Linked DNA regions of Homo sapiens: region 2 is linked to region 1. The links come from fine-mapping of genetic effects on gene expression. Tissue or cell type: visceral fat. Region 1 holds a variant in brackets; the other region holds the start of a gene. All regions are shown on one strand. Distances are between the middles of the regions.

Region 1 (10,278 bases):
ATGTCAGTGACCAATAGGAAAAGGAGCTTCCCTCCTGTGGGGCTCCTTAATCCAAATGGGTGACTAAAGTGAGGATGGATAGGGAACTGAACCAACAAAGTGATTAGAGAAGGCACTAATAAGGCTCCTCACCCATACTAGCTATAGAAAAGGGGGCCCTATGCTTTACAATCTCTAAGCTTTATTCTTAGTGATGAAGCTAAGGTTTTCAAAATAATCCAGTGCCTTCTGTCTCCCATCTCTCTCCCAAACCCAGAGCTGGAGAGTAAGAGAGGCATGGACCTGAAGCCAGACCCCCTACCCAACCGTTGATCAGACTTCACTCTGGACAGATGAAAGGTTTGAGCACTTTCTGAGTGACAGCTCACAGAGCTGGCATGTTACATTTAAGCCATTTACATTTTGGAGCCTGTGAGTCTGTCAAAACAATGCCACCCCCTGCTGTGACTCTGGCATAATAACTGGCTTGTGCAGAGCAAATCTTGACTCAACTTCCATGTGACCAACCATGTGAATGTGTGCAGATTAAAAGACAGAAAGAAACGAGATTTTTATTATTTTTTTTTTAATCTTTAACAAATACAGGCACCTTTTGGTCCAGGTTTCCCTCTGATTCAATGTCATGCACTAGTAAATCTGGATCTGAGACAGCCCAGTTTATCTTGGAGTATTAAGGACTTAGTGAAGCAAAGAAAACTCATTCTAAGGGTTTAAAGGAAGTTAAAGAATATCCTGTTACATTTTCAGGTTAAGGATCCTAAATGCCTTATTCACTGGTATATTCCATGGATTTGCCCAGGGTCTGATGTGTAGAAGATGACCGACAATATTCGTTGAGGGAATCAATGTTTTCAACAACACCATCTCTACCACTCCACCCCCAAAACCATACAAGGTTTCCTGCCATTCATCTATCCCTGGTAGTGTTGTCATCCATACCGCCTCCTCACATTTCTTAGAGAGCTACTTTGGATGATCCATCCTCATTTCATTTCTGAGTAGATTTACATCTTGCAGCTGAACCATTCATTCACTCTTTCATCAACTCTATGTTGTGTGGAGGGCCTATTTGGATCAAACACTTAATTAATGACAAAATTACAAAGGTAAGAGGCATATGGAAAATACCTTTGATAAGACTATAGTCCAGTAGAGAAGACAGGAACATGGGCCTCTAAAATCTAGGGTATGAGGCTCGGAGGAGATGAATAAAGACCAACATAGGAAAGAGAGGGAAAATTCTCAAGGGAACCCTAATAAGGTGTTCAGAGAAATGGAAGATGTCTAATTTGTGGGTATTAGAGCTTGGGAGTGTGTATCAGTGAAGGAACTATAAGTTGGGTATGTGTGGCGCAGCTAGGAGAATTGTCCGTCCTGGGTTGCCCGAAAACAAGCTAGCTAGGACCAGGATCCCCCCTCCTTCTCCACACCAGAAGGGCTGCCCCCACACTCAGCTTTCTACAGGACTGCTGGCTTCCTTCACCTGGGAGGGAGGACTCTAATTTTCTATGCACCGTAAGATGAATTGCAGGACAGCTGGTGTCCCCACACTATTTCTTTACATGGTTGGCCCCATAATTCTGGACTGATAGCACCGAGTAGCCTATGTGTTCCACCCTCTTCAAAGACTGTTTTCTCACTTTTGGTCTACAAATGGGAGAAGAACAGGGCCCACTTGGTCCCTACTGGCAATCAGATCCTTACTGCAGGCCCAGAAATGGCTCCTCCCTGTGAAGTATAGAAGCACCAGCTTTGTAAGTTTTCCATTTCCTCAATAAACCTTATTCGTTGTGCCATGTCAATCAATTTAAACCAAACCATGATGCATCATAGGCAGAGATCCACAAGGGTCCACCTCATATGACATGGGCCTGGGGACCCTGCAGAGGTAGGCAGCAAGGGTATCCTGGTGTGTGCAGGGTATGAACTATCCTGGTGTGTGCAGGGTGTGAACTATCGTGTGTGCAGGGTGTGAACTATCGTGGTGTGTGCAGGGTGTGAACTATCCTGGTGTGTGCAGGGTGTGAACTGGAGGAAGGGGGAATATATTAGGTTGGTGCTGCAGTTTTTGCCATTGAAAAGAAATGGCAAAAACCACAAGGACTTTTGCACCAACCTAATAGTAAAGAAGAGGGGATAGTGTGCGCTAGGAGTCATGGGACTTGGGACAGCAGGGACGGCCGGAACCTCTTTTGGGCAAGGCCTTTGCAGCAGACATCTGTTGTTTCTGCTTGCCTGCCTTCTTCCCGTTCTATTGCTAATAGTACATCAATGTTTCTCTGAAGAAACTTCCTTTCCCATACCATGCAGTCTGGCGGGCCTGTTAGTGCTGGCCATTCTCTGGCCAAGGAAAGAGCTAATTCATGCCATGAGAACCTCTCAGGGATTTAAATCCTGAGCACAATCACCAGGAACTGAAAACCATGGCACAGACTCACCAGATGGAGTCCCTAGGGAGTGAGTCCATTCTTGCCCTGGATCCCTCTGCTAGCCCTGCTTGAGGTGCCCACCTTTCCTTTGATTCTGTCAGCCCCACAGTCTTCCACCAGGTCCCCTTTGGGCCTGAGTTAACTTGAGCCAATCCGCAATTTGCAAACAAAGAAGCCTAGTGGCCAGTCTTGAACACTGAAGCTCACTGAGTGAATGCCATCCCAGGGCAAGAGTAACATTAGAATACATGCCTGATGTCTGTATGGTACTGTGCAGTTTCCTCACACTATTAGAGATATTGAAAAGTCAGATTCAGAAAATTTGGGGCCATCTGGCTTAGTGCTGTGACCTCAGACTCCTGCTGGGGATGTTCAATTAGAGAAAGAGATGTGTTGGTATCAAGGATGGCTCTTTATCTTTCCAACTTTTCTGAAGCTTGATAAAGAAATCAAAATTCTGTGTGCATGTGGGTGTGTTTCTGTGCCCAAGTGTCCTTGGGTGGTATTCCAAGAAGTCAAGCAATTTATCTGTCACTGTCATTTGCAAGAATTGCTCTTGGTTGATAAGATTTAAACCCAGCACATCCTCCAGTGCCTGTTGACAACCACTCCTGCCTGGAGCTCTGCCTGGGATCAGTCTTGCTCTGATTCTGCTCCATACTTTACTGCATTGGGTCCTGGAGATAAGAGATACCTAGCATGATTCTCAGACGATGTCCTCTTGAGCAAAAGCCTTTAAGCTTCCAGCTCACCTGCCCACATTCAGGCAATGAGCTACACATGTCCATCCCTTTCCCAGATTCCTCTCTACTGGGTAGAAAGGAGGAAAGAACCACATGAATTGTCAGAAGCACAACTCCAAAGCCCTTGAGGAAAAGGGCAAACTGAAAAGTTGCTGGATCTCTAGCTACATGATCACTGGGGCTCTACTCCTTGGTTTTGTGTGTAATCAACAACAGAGAATTTTGTTCCTCACTGCAGTGGGTTTTGCCATCAAACATAGTTGTCTTAGAGTCCATTGTCATCTTACCAAAGATGCATTCTGTACAATGCATACTGGATAAGGAAATTAAATCCAGGCTAGGAAAGGCAACTCAAGGTCACTATTAAATATATGGTCTGATTAATAAGGACATTTTTAATCATCTTAGAATCTCAGAGCCAGAAGCAATTTTAAAGGCCATCTATTTTCCAATTTTCATGTAATCCCCTCAAATTAAAAAATACATATACATGGATATGCGCATATTGGATGCTTATAGGCACTATGCTAAGTATTTTATATGTATTCTGTCATTGATATACTCTGAATCCTTACAACAACCCTCTGCAATAACCACCATTATTCTCCATTGTACAAACCAGGAACCTGGGGCTCAGAAGGTTTGGTCATTCACCCCACGTCATGCAGCAAGTATGTAGCAGAGCCTCTTCAGAGAAGGTGTCCCTGTAGCTCCTGGCCAAACCTGACCTGCGTGTGTACCTTAAAATTTTCCAGTATAGCTTCAATAATTTTTTTTTTTATTTTTGAGACGGAGTCTCCCTCTGTTGCCCAGGCTGGAGTGCAGTACACGATCTTGGCTCACCGTAACCTCCACCTCCTGGATTCAAGTGAATCTCGTGCCTCAGCCTCCTGAGTAGCTGGGATTATAGGCACCCACCACCACTCCCAGCTAATTGTTTTATTTTTATTAATTATTTTATTTTATTTTATTTTTGAGATGGAGTCTTGCTCTGTTGCCAGGCTAGAATGCAGTGGCACAATCTTGGCTCACTGCAACCTCCTCCTCCTGGGTTCAAGCGATTCTCTGCCTCAGCCTCCCAAATAGCTGGGACTACAGGCATGTGCCACCACACCCAGCTAATTTTTGTATTTTTAGTAGAGATGAGGTTTCACCATGTTGGCCAGGATGGTCTCGATCTCATGATCTCGTGATCCACCCGCCTCGGCCTCCCAACGTGCTGGGATTACAGGCGTGAGCCACCGCACCCGGCTGGCTTCAATAATTTTAAATGGAGGGTTTAACATTAGAAATATTCAGATTTGCACCTTTCCCTGAAAAGTCAGAAGACCTGGCCACACTGGGCTGGCATTCCTACATGGGAAGAATGAGCTCAAGCCAAGTAGTAGTCACCCCTTCAGACACAAATCAGATCACTGCAATAACCTGCTTAGGCTTTTCAATGGCTCCTAATCACACTTAGAATAAAATCCAAAGCCCTCACTACAGCCCACAGGGTCAGGCCTCTGCCTGCTGCTCCACTCTCGTCTTGTCTGACTCTCTGCTCCCCCATGCTAGCATTCTCTCCAGTCCCTGTACTTAAAAAGCCCCGTCCTTCTTCAGGGCCTTTGCTCTTACTGTTTCCTCCTTTGGGAAAGCTATTTCCTCTAGTCTGCCCATGTCTGACTTGTACTAAGCCTTTTGCTTAAATACCACTTCCTCAGAGAGGCCTTCTTGACTCCTGTAATAAATAGAATAATGCCTACTCCCCCTCTTGAAGATGCCCACATCCTAATCCCCAGACCCTGTGAATGTGTTACCTTACATGGCAAAAGGAACTTTGCAGATGTGATTAAGTATCTTGAGATGGGCAGATTATCCTGAATTGTCCTGGTGAGCCTGATGTAATTGCAGAAGTTCTTATAAGAGGAGGGTGGGAAAGGCAGAGTGAGAGAAACAGATTTAACAGCAGATATAGAGGTTGGCATGATGTGAGGAAGCGGCCCTGAACTGAG[A/G]AATTCAGGTGGCCTTTAGAAGCTGGAAAAGTGAATTTTCCCCTCCAGAATCTGACCTTTTCTGTAATCCTAAAACTTCTCTAAAAAATAAAGTCTATGAATAGTAATAAGAAAGAGAGAAAAACATGCAGACCCCTTTGGTTTAAATCTGGGTCAGGCACTTGCAAGTTGGGAACTCTTAGGAAGGTTATTTAATCTCTCAGCCTCAGCTTACTCGGCTGTAATATATGTCTCTTTCTACCCACCCGATGGAGCTGTTGTGAAAAACAAGTTAATGCCTAGTGTAGTTCCTGGCATCGTGTAGCAAGCACTCATAAGTATTAGGCTTAGGGATGGGGGGGAAGTGGAGATGTTGTTTGTTTTCTGTAAACACTCAAGAAGACATTGAAATTTTACTTGCTGGGAAGCTGTTGCTCAGAACTGCCTGCAGAATGGAATGTCATGCAGAGAATCTTGAGCCTCCAAGAGGAATGCAGCCCTGAGACACCTTGGCTTTAGCCCAGTGAAGTTGATTTTGAACTTCTGACCTCTAGAACTGTAAGAAAATATGTTTATGTTGTTTTAAGCCACTAAGTTTGTGTCAATTTTGTACAGCAGTAATAGGAAACTAATACAACCACTTATTTTAAAATACTCCCTTCCCCATTACTAGTCTCAAACTTAACCGTTTATTAGTGTCCATCCATGCACTTACCACAACTTGAAATTATTGTATTTGATTGTCTGCTTGCTTAGTTTTGGTCTCTGTGACTGCTAGACTGGAAGTCCCAAGAGGACAATACTATGTCTTTCTAGTTCATGGCTGTTATCCCAAAATAGAGCAACTGTCCAGCAACTGTAGGAGCTCAGCAGATATTTACTGAATAACTAAATTGGTTATTAAATAGTTTGCCTCGCTATTGATTTCAGGTGCCCTCATTTGAGTATATTGCAAGTTGAAAATGTCCCTACTTAAAGGTGGAATTTATGCTTGAACTCAGCCAGGTGCAAGTATTTCTCTAAAGCATAAGAAACAATCAGAGATTTTAAGGAAATCAGGCAGCAAGCCCAATGACAAAACAGGCAATATTCCCAAGATAAATTCATGTTCTGTTTCTTACATGCTTGCTACTCTCAGTGTCACCAGGGAGCTTGTTAGAAATGCAGAATATCAAGCCTCACCCCAGAGCTACTGAATCAGAATCTGCATTTTAACAAGATGTCCAGAAAATCCATATGCATGTTAAAGTTTCAGAATTGCGGCACCACATATTTGATTAAAGGGAAGTGCTCTTCAGAAAAACGAGCTACAAGTATACCTTCCATGGGCAGATGCAGCAAGCACTATCAACCCCATCACAGCCTGAGTGAGCCCTGACTCAACGGCTCTATGCTGCCATATCCCATCACCTGCTCACTAGGCTGAATTCTCTGTGGAGCCAGACAAAGAGGTGATGAATTTTTAGGCACCCATAAGTTCAATCAGAACTAGGCTTGAGCAGGGGAAGAAACCCCTTCCCACCAATGATGGTGGTAGTGGTGGTGGGGTCTGGCTTTGTTGACTCCTGCCCTGCATTATTCTTCCAGGAGTGGAAGAAACTAGAAACTACTGAAAGCCTCTAGGTAGCTGGGTCAGGAGTAAGCCTACTGAGCTACTGCTACCCAGAAAAACCCCTCACACCACCCCATGTGTCCTACAATAAATGTTTGCTAAAAAAATGTGTTTGTTAGTGCAGATGGGACCCCCGTATGCATGGATTCACTATCTCTGTGCTTCAAAAAGCTCTTGTTAGTCCTTTCCAGTGGCCAACACTCAGTGCAGCATGTGGAGCATAATAGATATGTAATAAATATCTGTTGAATGAATAGTGAATCTACAGATGGTCTGTTGGGAAAACTGAGCCATACTGTTCTTATAGTACCTACCATTCTTCACCTGTATTGGCAAGTCCTTGTAGTAGCAAATATCAGAAACCCAACCAAAATACACTTGAATGAAAAAGAATGTACAGGTGCACATGAATACAGTTTGATTGTGGGTGTATATTATATCCTTATGACCTAATTTCTCTTTTTCATTTCTCCCACAAATGATCCTGTTCTCAGACACATTCTCCCTTGGGCCACAATAGAGCTGCCACTGCTCCTCATACCCTCTCAGCTTCAAATTTATGAACTCTCAATGCAGGTTTCATTGGTTCCCACTAGGTAACATTCTCATTCCTAAATCAATCCCCTGGGAAATGCAATTCAGTAATGGGTTTAAGTCTGGTCTTAGGTTCCGCACCTGCCGTATGGCAGTGGGGTGATGGCTATCCATGCTTGAACATTCCTGGAATGTTCTCCAAGCAAAAGCTCAGAGAAATGAAGGTCATGTTCAGGGAACAGTGAGGTCAGAATAAAATTGGGATGAAAGGCGAGGGTCAGATTAGGAAATATCTGAAACTTCAGCCTAAGTAATGTGCCTTCAAGGAAGCTATAGATTGTAAAAATTAAAAATATATACCAGGATAAACAAACTATGGTACATCCATACAATAGAATATTACTCAGCAAAAAAAAAAAAAAAAAGAAGAAGAAGAAGAAATGAGCTATCAAGCCACAGAAAGACATAGAGGAACATTAAATGCATATTGCTAAGTGAGAGAAGCCAATCTGAAAAGACTATGTACTACTGCATGCTTTTAAATATATGACAACTGGAAAAGGCAAATCTATGAAGACAGTGAAAAGATCAGTGGTTGCCAGAAGTATGGGGAGAGGAAGGAGGGGATGAATAGGTGGGAGACAGGGCATTTTTAGGGCTGTGAAACTTTTCTGTATAATAGTATAAGGTAGATACATGTCATTACACATTTGCCAAAACCCACAGAACGTGCAACACCAAGAGTGAATCCTGCTGTAAACTATGGACTGGGTGACTATGATGTGTCAGTGTAGATTCATTATTTATAATAAATAAACCACACTAAGGCAAGATGTTAGGGGAAACTGAGGTGGGGATAAGAGAGTATATAGGAACTATAATTTCTGCTCAGTTTTTCTGTAAACGTAAAAATCTCTAAAAAATAGTCTATGAATAGTAATAATAAAAGAAAGTGGGAGAAAAATGCAGACCACTTTGGTTTAAATCTGGGTTAGGAGCTTACAAGTAGGGAGCTCTTAAGCAGGTTATTTAATATCTCAGCCTCATGTTACTCAGCTGTAATATGTACTTATTAGTACCCAACTCATAGTGCTGTTGTGAAAAACAAGTTAATGCATGAAGCACCTGGCATCATGCAGCAAGCACTCATAAGTGTTAGGCTTGGGGGTTGTTGGGGAGGTGTCTTTTGTTTTCTGTAAACACTCAAGAAACCATTGAAATTTTCTATGCTGGGAAGCTGATGTTGAGGACTGCCTGTAGAATAGACTGTCACTCAGAGAAGTTAGGGTCAGGAAGATAAGTTAGGACATTATTCTGAGAGGAATGTGGACATTGCTGTAGAGATAGGGGAGGTAATGATGGAAGAAGTGTTGATTAATGGGGAATATGAAGAGGAGCCTTGGAAGGAGAACAGGGTGCCTTGAATGAAGACCAGAAATGTTGGGGTTTGGGGGAGTAAGCACTGGAATCTTAAACTGATGAAAGAACTGTCTGGATTACTGAGATCATTTACCCCTTCCTCTCCAGCTCAAGATAGTCTTCGTGGCTGACTGCCATACAAGAATCCTAACATCATTTCCTTTCTCCAAAGCAGAAAGTGGAGTTTTACACAGAAATTTACCTGCTAGCTACACTGCTGCCTTGACATTTTAAGTGGTACCTGCCCTTCTGCGTCAGACATTTCCCTCAAATGAGAAAGTGACAAGCTTCCCTAATGGGCGTTTGTTCGAATGTTCAACCAAGTGAGAACTCGGCTAGAGTGGGGAAATCTGGCGCCTGCTGAAGACAAAGGGAACATCAGCAACAAATATATTCAGAGCAATTATCTTGGGGACCTCCCACCCAGTGTCCCCTCCCTTAGCCAAGCAACATCTTCAGGAGGAAGGCTGAGCGCTGGCTGTCGTGCCTCCTCCCTGCCTCCTGCTGAGTCACCATAGCAAATTGCAGCAGACAAATAGAGCAGCCTCAAAATTGGCAAGATCAGGTCCTAGGGAGCACAAGCATTGGCCTTTTCAATTTGAAAATTTGAAAATTTCAATTTTTAAGACAAATTGGCATAAGACTCTCATAGAAGAAAGAACAGTAAAGGTCGTGTGGACCCATCTTGCTGTCCTGTGATTGAACCCCTTCTGTCATGTTGTTGCCATGTGGTTCCCTAGCTATGCTTCAAGCTTACATCCAGGGACAGGGAGCTCACCACTAAAACAGGGCTACCTGGTTAATTCAAGGGCTTAGAGCTAACCCATTAATTTTACAGCTGGAGAATTCAAAGCTCCATGAGAAAGTGCCTTGCCTTTAATTGCCAGATGAGCCAGGGGCTGACCTTCCCATGTATTCTAGAACCCCTCCTTGAGCACGTTTACCAGGCAGAACATGATGGTTAAAAGGTCAGGTTCTCGTGGTGTCTGGCAGACCTGAGTGCAAAACCAATCTATTGCCCTCGGTCAAACTATTTTTTCTTTTTAAGTTCCAGGAGTTTTTTTTGACTAAAATATAGGGACAATAATTGTACCTACTTACTGGTTTGTCATAAGGATTACATGAGAAAATGATACAGCATACTTATCATACAGTGCCTGACACATAATACACGAGCAATAGTGGCAACTACTAAATATAATTGGTACTAAATTTGCTTATGTTTACCTACCATTCCAGTTGAGTATTAGAAATCATATTTACCGTCCTGACCCTGGACTGCTCATTATTTTGTTCTGTGTAGATTCCAGGGTCTGAGAGAGAGCCAAGATGAATATGGCCTTCCAAGAAGACATGCTGACAAGAAAAGACTCAGAGTGCCCAGGAGCTTCCCCTTCCTACCAACCCTGCAGCCTGGAACCCTAGCCATACCTCTCCCTGACTGTGGACAGTACAGCCTTTGAGCTGAGCCAAGCTGCTCCCCTGGCGATTTCCATAAGAGTACCACTTATCAGCACCTTGGACAGCATACAAATGATTCTGCATCTCCAGGTAAGGCAGGTGTCAGT
Region 2 (10,278 bases), 54 kb before region 1:
TTCTAGAGTCCTTAAGTAAGAAAAATATATTGACTTTCATTCACACATGCTGTTACTTGCAGCTAAAATAGTTTAACTGATGCAGGCATCACTAAGAACAGTGCCTCCAGTTCACATCCATAGTCCTTTGCAGCCATGTTTATACATGTGACTTGTCTCCAGGCCATAAGTGATCCATGGACATATGACCCAAGTTTAGACTGATTCTTTTACCTAGGAATTCAGAAGTGGAAATAACTGATGCCAGGATTCAATATAAAGCTGGAGCTGAGGAAAATAAGCAGCGAAAGTCAGTCTGCTTCAAGAAAAAAACTGAGACAGATCAGCAAAAAGAAACAAGAGTGAGAGACAATAAAGCCCATGAGAGATGAAGAATGCAAACCAGGCCTTGAAAAGATTCCTATTTTCTGGTCCCAGGCCCTCTCGATTTCTGGTTATAATTCTAGCCTTCATAGTTTGAGAGTAGGTTTCTGTCTGATCAAGGCTAGCCTCTAGAATTAAACGTAGTCTTCATAAAAATCTGAACACAAAAGGAATACACCCCCAAAACAATACATTAAAATATTTTTATCATGTCACAACAGACTCAGATTCAGCTAACTCTTATTAGTCTCTTATTCAATTATGCCAAGCAAAATGCTAAGCAATTTTTATATTGTATATTCATGGCCTTATTTGTTAAATGTTTATAACAGTCACTTGAGATATAAAATATCATTCTATTTCAGATGTGGAAAGTGAAGTAAAGGGACACATAAGCAGTTAAAGGACATAGATGTCTAATTGGGAACTAAAGATTCTAAATACTCTTTCTCACTACAGTCCCACGATGCCCTGAGTATCAGATGTCCAATAAATACCTACTGAAAAATTAGTTCAACTGTTCCATTTCAATTCATAATTCTAGGTCTTTATGTTTCCATATACTGACCTGCTACATACTTGACTTCAGTTGAAATTTCACTGGGACCAGGGATTCCAAGGGAAGTCTCTGCCTTCTCGATGACATTTGAAATGCCTTGTCCTAATGAGAAAAATAACTTTTTTTTTTGCTATTTGTCACCAAAACTGAAGAAACAAAAATCAAACTTGAAGATTTTTAAAATCATTTAGGACCACAAGACATGTTATTTTGACAATACATAACTAATCTTGGCACTATTTCCTTAAAAAAATTGATTCATCATCACCAAAGAATAAGTTCACAGTAATAATTCCTAGACTTCAATATTCTAATGAGGAAATGCTACAAACTCTAGTGGCAGTATATATCAGCCCATCATTACTAATGCATCCTCAAATTATAAAGCCTTTGAGTAAACATGGAAGGAAGAAGAATTTTAACCAAGTCATATGCAATGCAGATCTGTATAAAATAAATACACACACAAAAATAACTAAATGACTGATGATCTTACCTACTGTAGCTACTGTAGCCGAGGCTGAGGAGAGTATGGACTTGCCCCAGCTCCCCCAATAACCCCATCTGGTCTGGGGTACATCTTTGGAAACATTATCCTAATTTCCCAGTAGGCAGAAAAACAAAAGGCAAAGAAAAATGAAAAAATTAGAGGAAAATCAGAATGTACAGACAAGGTATCTAATTATTAGCCAAAAGCATGGGTGAACAAATACATATTATTTAGCTAAAGAAATGTATTGCTTGACTGGCAGATATATGCTATCAGCATGTAAGTACCACATAGCAAAAGCAATTATTCATAAAGGCATTTATAGAACTGAAAAGACTGTATTTTAGGGTTGTAAAGAGAAAGAAATAAGAGCAATTCTAAATTGGTATTTATGCCAAATTTCTTTTAGCCCCAACATTTTTTAATCCTAATATTTTAATAGATACCCTACTTTTTCTGTGGTCTGTGATACCTGAATAGGGAGAACTTTTGAAGTCTCAAGGTCACTGGAAGGTTTGGTCTCTGGTCTTTTCCGAGTGGAAACTACAGGTTCTGATTTACTCTCTGGTTTGGCACCTTGGTCAACAGACTCAGAATTCTTGGCTGGCTCACAGTTTCCATCTTCAAGGATGGGGGCTGCTTCAGTTAGCAGTGGAGTCTCAATATCATCTTTATCTGACATGATTAGAACATCAGCTGGTAAAATGAAAGCCCAAAAAAAATTTATATAGGCTTCTTTGGTATAAAGTATTTGTTTAAACTTTTTAGTTTGAGATTATCATAGATTCACATACAAGTATAAGGAATAATACAGAGATCCCATATACCTTCATCCAGTTTCCCCCAATGGTAAAACTTACACAAATATAATATCACAACCAGGAAACTGATATCAATGCAATCCACTGATCTCATTCAGACTTTATCAGTTTTAAACGCACTCATTTGTATTTAGTTCTATAAAATTTTATCGCATGTATACCTTTGTGTGACTATCACCACAATCAAGATACAGAACAGTTCAATCACAAGGATCCCTTGTGCTATCCTTTTTTAGCCATAACCACTTCCGACACTCCTTCCAACCCAAAGCAATTACTGATCTCTCTGATGGACAGGTGTCCTCCATCTCTGTAATTCTGTCATTTCAAGATGTTATATAAATGAAATCATACAGCATATTACCTATTGACATTGACTTTTTTCACTCAGCATAAGCCCCTCAAGATCCATTTAAGTTGTATTAGTATTCCTTCCTTTTTATTTCTGAGTAGTATTCCATAGTATAGATGTATCACAATTTACCCATTTATCCATCGAAGGATATCTGTATTGTTTCCAGTTTGGGACTATTATAAATAAAACAGCTATGAAAGTTCATGTATAGGTTTTTGGGGGAACATAAGCTATCATTTCTCTGGGGTAAATGACCAAGAGTGCAACTGCTGGGTCATATGGTTAAGTTCATGTTTAGTTTTATGAGAAACTGCCATACTCTTTTCCAGACTAGCTACACCATTTTACATTTCCACCAGCAATGTATGACTGATAAGTTTTTCTGCATTCTTGCCAGCATTTGACATTGTCCCTATTTTTTATTTGAGCCATTCTGACAGTTGTGTGGTGATATCTCATTGTGGATTTAAGTTGTACTTCTCTAAGACCTAATAAGGTTGAACATCTTTTCATGTGCCTATATGCCATCTGTATATCCTTGTCAGTGAAATATCTTTGTATCTTTTGCCCATTTTCTAATGAGATTTTTTTTTTACTGTTGAGTTTTGAGAGCTCTTCATATATTCTGTATAATATGTGGTTTGCAAATATTTTTTTCCAGTATGTAGCTTATCTTTTAATTGTCTTCATTGGGCCTTTCAGAGCAAGTCTTTAATTTTAATGAGGTATAATTTATCAATTTTTCCTTTTACTTATTGTCCTTAAAAATCTTACTAGTTATTAATCATTCCTACCTCAATTTTTCCAGGACATCATGAAATTTAAGCCATCAGATTGGCTTTATGTCAGATCAACTTTTGAATACCAGTGTTACTCAATTCAATTCCTTCCAGATGTAGAGCTCTTTGGCAATTAAAGCCAAGATACTATTGGTGTCTCTACAAAGAACAGACACTAGTTTCCAGGATAACCAAGGATTATCAGAGTAGAAATCAATACATCTCACACATATGTACACACACGCTGTAGGTATGTACTGATATGTACTAAGTGCAGAATTAGACCCAACCCATGCTATCAAAATGTTTCTAATGTATTAGAAAAGAAAGGCATATTAAAACTAAGGCAGACTGGATGCAGCACTATAACAGGTGCTGCATTCAGTCCAACACACAAAATGCTGAAACATCCCTGCCAGACCATCCAACACACAAAATGCTGAAAAAAAACAGAACTCCATTAGAATCAGACAACGTAATTCATGAACAAAGTACCTGAAATAAGCCTAGAGTAGTGGTCACAAACTGGGAATTTAAGTGCCAAATCCAGCCTACAGATGTTTTTATTTGGCCTGCACAGTATTTAACCTTTGCAAAAACTAGATGCCAACATTTAAAAATCAGACTTCATATAAAAATATAGGCTTCCAACTTCTAACTTGTAAAATTAAAAGATCTAGCAACACCGGGCCCACATTCAACTCTGTAATAACTAGCTTGTGCTAAATAGCCGCTGGGCCCTTTTAGCTAGGGCAGTTGCTCTCCAGCTCCCTACAATCCCCCACGCAAATCCACTTCACTCAAATTATGCTACCTGATTAACCTCTGTAGGCATCTGAGTTGGCAACACCTGCCTTAAAAGAAGCTTATGATTTTGACAGATGATGATGCCAATGACAGGATTCAAGGATATGGAAATAACATGAGGGTACAGCCAAAGGCCTGAGGTCTGACAGTATGGAACATGGACAGTTACAGTAGGGAGTAGTTACCATGGCAGAGAGAAGAACAATGGGAAGGCATGAAGCTAGAAAGGTAGATTAAGACAACACTATGGAGTTCAGAATATATGGGCATATAATATAAACACATTACACATTTCCAAAACACATAGAGAAAAAATCCAGATACAACTACTCACTGACATACAAACCAACTTAGAAGTAGCCATTCATTCACTCGCAAACATTTTTTGAGTACCTACTACGTACCAAGTAGTACCACAGTACCTGTGGAGATAGAGAACTAATGTAAGCCATTCACTCCAAGGGCCTATCTAATAGGAAAGACGAGACAGTTTTTGCACAAAGTTCAATTAATGTTTTGTGTATATGAATAAATGTTTCCTATCTTTTCCTTATGCTCTCTCCAGGTTGCAACGCATCATTATCATCATCATAAATATATACAGTATACTATATGTAGAATATATAATATACATATTACATAAATTCATATAATTCCATGAAAGACTGGAAGGACATACTCCAAAATATATTTTTAAAGACAGGGTCTCGCTATGTTGGCCAGGTTGGTCTTGAACCCTAGGCCTGGCCTCAAGCAATCTTCCCCTGCCTCAGCCTCCCAAAGTGCTAAAATTACAGGCGTGAGCCACCATGCCCTGCCAAAACAGTCCCTTTACTAAAATATTAAACACTGGTTATCTCTATTCTTTCATTTGTGCCAGATATTTGAGCTAAGCCAGAAGAGAATTTTTTATGGTGATGGTTGTTTATATTATCATTACTATCGTTATTAGAATGACTGTACCATCTCTTTCCTCAACTCATTCATAATCTAGGAGAAAGGTTAAAAAAAAAAAAGGAATAAACACCAAGTACGTGGAACTGCACTATTTAGTGTTTTTGTAAGTCTTCCAGGCATTGTGTAGTAAGCGTGTAGAAATAATTGTAGTTTCTCCTCCAGTTATTTTCTCAGTTGGAGGAGAAAGATTCCAATAACTGTAAATAAATACGGCTGAGCCATATTTTTAAGAAATAAAAACGCATACGCTTACACACACACATATATATTACGTATATATACACTCCACCCGCCCCATTTACCAAAATGAAGAGCAGTACAGCTTAGTAGCTAAGAGCACGGGCTCTGGAGTTTACTTTCTTCCTGTCCTGCAGCGATTGTGGGGAAGTCAGGTCACCTGTCTGCCTCTCCGTTTCCTCATCTGTCAAATGGAGTTCTGGGTCCCTATAAAGATTCAGTGACGCGATATGTGAGGGGCTTGGAACAGTGACCGGCACGTAACCGCCCACAGGTTAACAGCTGCTATCACTTGGTGGGGTGATGGTTTGTATCCTATCGTTATTAATACGGCTGTCTCTAGATGAGCAAACATGCGCTCTCACTTCTTCCCACATTCAAGAATGGGGTCCCAAACGAGAGATTCGACGTAAACGTCCGCTCCCAACTAAGTTCTCAGGCGCTGACAACGACAAGAATTCCTCACACAAACGTAGCGCTTCAATCACTAAACCGCTTTCACAGCCCTCGACCCTGCCGCGAGATGTCCGCCGCCCACCGTCAGGTCACCGCCTCCCTAACGACTTCGGCTGCCCGGGCCCTGCCCCTGAACCTCGCACCCCTCCTGCCTCGTTCAGGAAGCTCCGCACCTATCCGGCCGCCACCCTCAGCACAGCCACGGCAGCCGACTCGGCGTTCCTACTGCCCCGGAAGTGCTCCTTCAGCGCAGAGGCGTGCCGGTGTGTCCGAGAAAACTTCCGAGTTAAGCCGCCGCTGAGGCCGGAAGGAGCTAGACGGCGGTCGGGTAGGTGACGGCTTGGTTGGGGTCGCTGCGAGGGGACTACTAGGAGCGCCGAGGCGTGAGTCGTAGCCTGTGGCTTGGGGTCGGGAGTGCAGGAGGCGAAAATGTTTGCCATTCTTTTGAAAGTCTGGCCTGGGTGTGGGAGTTCGGTCATCGAACACTTACTGAGAGCCAGATACCTGCCAGGCACTGCCCTGGGCTCCAGGGACACATCAGTCAACGAACGGAAGGGCCCTGCTCTCAAGCAGTGCGAAAAGCAGATTATAAACAAGTCAACAAACGGGATTATCTAAGGTGGTAGTAAGTGCTGTAAAGAAATTTAGACTGGATAATGTGATGGAACGAAGTGGGAGAGTAATAAGCCGTATGAAAATCTGGAATAGAGCATTCCAGGCAGAGAGAATAGCGCGTGCAAAGGCCATATAGTGGGAACAAACTTAGCAAAGTCAAGGAAAAGACAAAGGCCACTGGCTAGAGCAAAAGGAGCAAGGTGAGAATGGAGAGAGATGAGGCCAGGGACTTGAGCCCAAATCTTGTAAGGCTTATGAGCAAGGATAAAGAGTTTGATTTTTGTTTGGAATCCAGTGGAAAACCATTGAAGGTTTCTAAGCAGATGAATGACATGATCTGATTTATGACTCTAAGATTACTCCTGGGACCTCATCAGAAAGATGCAACTCTTCTGTTGCCCTCGAGCAGTGAAAATGCATGAAATCCAGACTGACAGAGCTAGTAAAATATTAAAATCAATCTTATTGTACAGATAAGAAAAACTGAATCCCAGAGAGGTGAAGGGACTTAGCCTTTAAGAACTCATGTTTTCCAACTCCATTTAATGCCCTCGGAATTATCATCTTAATTCCCAGATAAGAGTAATTGTCACTTCTAAAACTCTTCAGATATTTTCCTTTGCTTTTGACAGTGGTTCTCTAAATTTAGGTTCATCAATATCACCTGGAAGCTTGTTAAAATTCCAAAAAACAACAACAAAAAAACCCCTGCTTAAATATAAAATGGATCATTTCCTCTGATTTTCTGTTGTAATGGAAAATGCATAGAATTTGGGGCTAAAGTATGGAATCTTGGGAAGCCACTTATTTTTTAAATGCTGCTGATAATTATAGCAGCAGTTCTCAAACTTTTTGATCTTAGAATTTCTTTATACTTTTAAAATGTATTGAGAACTTCAAAGGGTTTTTGTTTATAATAGCTATCAATATTTACTATTTTAGAAAACAACTTTCAACAAAGGTTATTCATTTTAAAATAAACTCATTATATGTTAACATAGATAGCATTTCTGTAAAGGATATTTTCCAAAATGAAAAATTATTGAGAATGGCATTGTTTTACATTGTTACAAATCTCTTTAATGTCTGGCTGAATAAAAGACAGCTAGATTTTCGTAACTTCTACCTTCATTCTCTTACAATATCAATCATCATGTAACTTTTAGAAAATTGTGCCATATTGTGTGAGAATGTGAGTGAAAAAGGGATATGTCCTAATATTATGTAAATTGTTTTGAAACAGTGTCAGGGACACCCAGGAGTTCCTGCACCACACTTTTGAGAATTACACTGAATTACGGTGATTGTCATGCCAGTAAAAGAAATATGAGTTTGATTTGTAAATCAATAAACCTATATGCACATTAAAAATGCAGATGCCCAGGCATCCCCTAGAGATCCCAATTCAATAAGTCTGTGGGGTCAAGAAATCTGCATCTTTAACAAGCACCACAAATTAATTTGATATAAATGGTCTGAAAATTACAGAGTGAGAAAACCAGTCAAATGATTCTCTAGAGTGTTCTGCCTACTAAAACTCAAGATAGGTGTCTTTCTTATCTTCACCTCTCTCCATCAATAGTTTCCAGAGCCTGAAGCTCTGGAAAGTTAATAAGTTTGTAGCAGACACCTTTCACACTACCAAGTCGATGAGTGTCTGAACTCAAAATTTTGAGCACTTGCCACAGGCAGTGGCCCTGTGCTAAGGACAGAAGGTTTTTAGACTCTATCATTCATAAGCTTACAGTCTTTTGAACGGATAACTAACTGCTAAGAGGAAAACTGATAAGTCTTATAATGGCGTACTCTTAATGTGCTAGGGGACTGACAGAGCAAAAAAAAAAAAAACTCATCTGACAAGAGGGTGGGCATGAGAGGGTTTCCTGAATAAGATGAAATTAGAGTTGAATATTATAGAGAGGGTACAGTTTCCCCCAGAAAGATATTGACGGGAAGGGGCAGAAAGATTTTTAAGCAAAAGGAACAACTAGTAAGGTGAAAAGTTATTTAGAGAGAATAAAGTAAAACAAGCGTAGTTTAGGCTTTCAGCCATGGCAGGAAAGCTGGGTAGATTATAGGATTTAAGCAAAGAAACGAATGATAATGATAATCAGCCTCTAGGTGAGGAAACTAAAACCACTGGAGCACATCATAGCTAATTTGTGATAGAGGTAAAACTAAAGACCAGACTTAATGTTTAAATCCATTCATTCCTCCTGCAAGCAATTATCGTACATAGAGGCACCTCTGGGCTTCTCATGACTTTCTGTTCTGCTGCCTGAATCTATTCTTGGAGAATTACAATGCCAAATTGGAATTTTAAGCTTATCTCATGGGCAGTGAGAAATCACCAGTAGATTGTAAAATTACCCTGAATTGCTCAGATTTGTGTTTAGGACCAATTCTGAGTGTCACAGTGTTTGGATACATCATAGAGGTAAAAGGAGTTAAGGAGATCCATTCTGAAATTAAGGGGATAGTGTGGTATACCCAGGTGAGATAAAAGGATATGAGTTAGGACAGAGACAACAGGACTTAATTGAAAAATGTGTAGGAGGTGGAATAATAACAATAGCATATATTTATAATTTACCCACATTAGTTCATCTTATCCTCAAAACTACCCTATGATGCAGTTACTGTTAATATTATTTTATTTAATAAATGTGAAAACTAAGGCCTTGCAAGCCTATGGCTTCACCCAGGGGTAGGATCAGGCACCTTAACTCTAGAGCCCATTCTCCTAACCACTGAGCCATGATTGTCTTACAATTTTGATACTGCAAAACTGGAAGAATTGTCTGGCTATTATCTAAGCTGTTCATAAGCTGAACAAGTAGATCTGAGGGTAAGAGGAGTTCTGTTTTAACTAGACTGAGTTTCAAATAGAGATGTTTCAGACTATAGAGGGGGAAAAATGGCCTGGGAAGATCATAAATCTAAGCCTGTTTCATTGATGTTTTTGTCATTTGCATCCAGTAGCTATTCAGCAAATATACCTATGGCAAAAAGGATATAAGTTATGGGTATAACTGAAATAATCCTGGGTTTAAAGCAAAGCTCTGATAAATACAGACGATGTTTCTCCAGGTGCCAGAAGATATGTTGAAGTTTGAGCTCAGACTGACCAAATGCTAGTTATGGGGTATGTGATAGCTCCAAGGTAGTAATATAAAGGCTATTTTAATTAGAAACTTTTGAGTAAATGGCCCTCAGGATAGTGATTTCTGTTTGAATGTCACTAACCTTTTTTAGTTACAGATCCCTATAATAATGCTTGAGTCTAGGCAGAACAACTTTGTGTTTATTCTTTGCAAAGGGTAGGGTAGTGCTAACAACCTGCTCTTCATTTGCTTTTTCTCCCCTTTGCCGATTCAGAATGCTGCTTTGTCAATTTGTGTGCCTGCTGTAGGAACTGGTCCGTTTTCCAAGTGTGACAGTGCAGGCAGAGAAGGGTGGATGAGCTGTAAATGCAGCCTAGAACACATTTGATTATAGAGAATGAAGCACTAATATCCCAATATAATTGGAGTTTAAAAAAAAAAAATACCACCTGGGCATCAATGTGTTTCCCTGCTTTGCATTTTCCCAGAACTATTTCTGCAAACATCAGTTTCCTCAGCCAACTTAATATTGAGTCACCAGAACGGAAATCAGCCATATTACTTCCTTATTTGTGTTGAAAATTGGAACAGAATGGAAATATTTCTTCCCTCAGAAGTTGGCAGGAACGGCAACAAGACAATCTGTTAGGGGTGACAGCTATAGGCTCTTCTCTTTTTTAAAAATAATATAGTCAATATTCAACATGGTTTTCTGGGGTAAAATCATCCACATTT

Alleles and levels. Positions count from the first base shown, and alleles are read on the strand shown. Sizes are in standard deviations (SD) of each study's normalised expression.
For the expression in visceral fat of the gene that starts at base 6,051 in region 2, G is the low allele of the variant in region 1 and A is the other (small effect, 0.16 SD a copy in GTEx).

What was found. PIP is the estimated chance that this variant, and not a neighbour inherited with it, causes the effect.
Region 2: FAM114A2 starts here. The variant in region 1 is fine-mapped to the expression of FAM114A2 in visceral fat (GTEx, PIP 0.93).

Annotation. Positions count from the first base shown.
Region 1 is chr5:154,087,011-154,097,288 of GRCh38, forward strand. No RefSeq gene overlaps it. Among named protein-coding and RNA genes, the nearest start is that of MFAP3, 53 kb to the left of the region's middle. The variant A/G (reference allele first, on the strand shown) is at 5,167.
Region 2 is chr5:154,032,860-154,043,137 of GRCh38, forward strand. FAM114A2 (family with sequence similarity 114 member A2) reads right to left here and starts at 6,051. Exons shown (of 14, transcript NM_018691.4): 1 at 5,998-6,051; 2 at 1,885-2,108; 3 at 1,419-1,518; 4 at 932-1,024. The coding sequence starts at 2,094. It overlaps MFAP3 (microfibril associated protein 3), which reads left to right and starts at 6,108. Exons shown (of 3, transcript NM_005927.5): 1 at 6,108-6,152.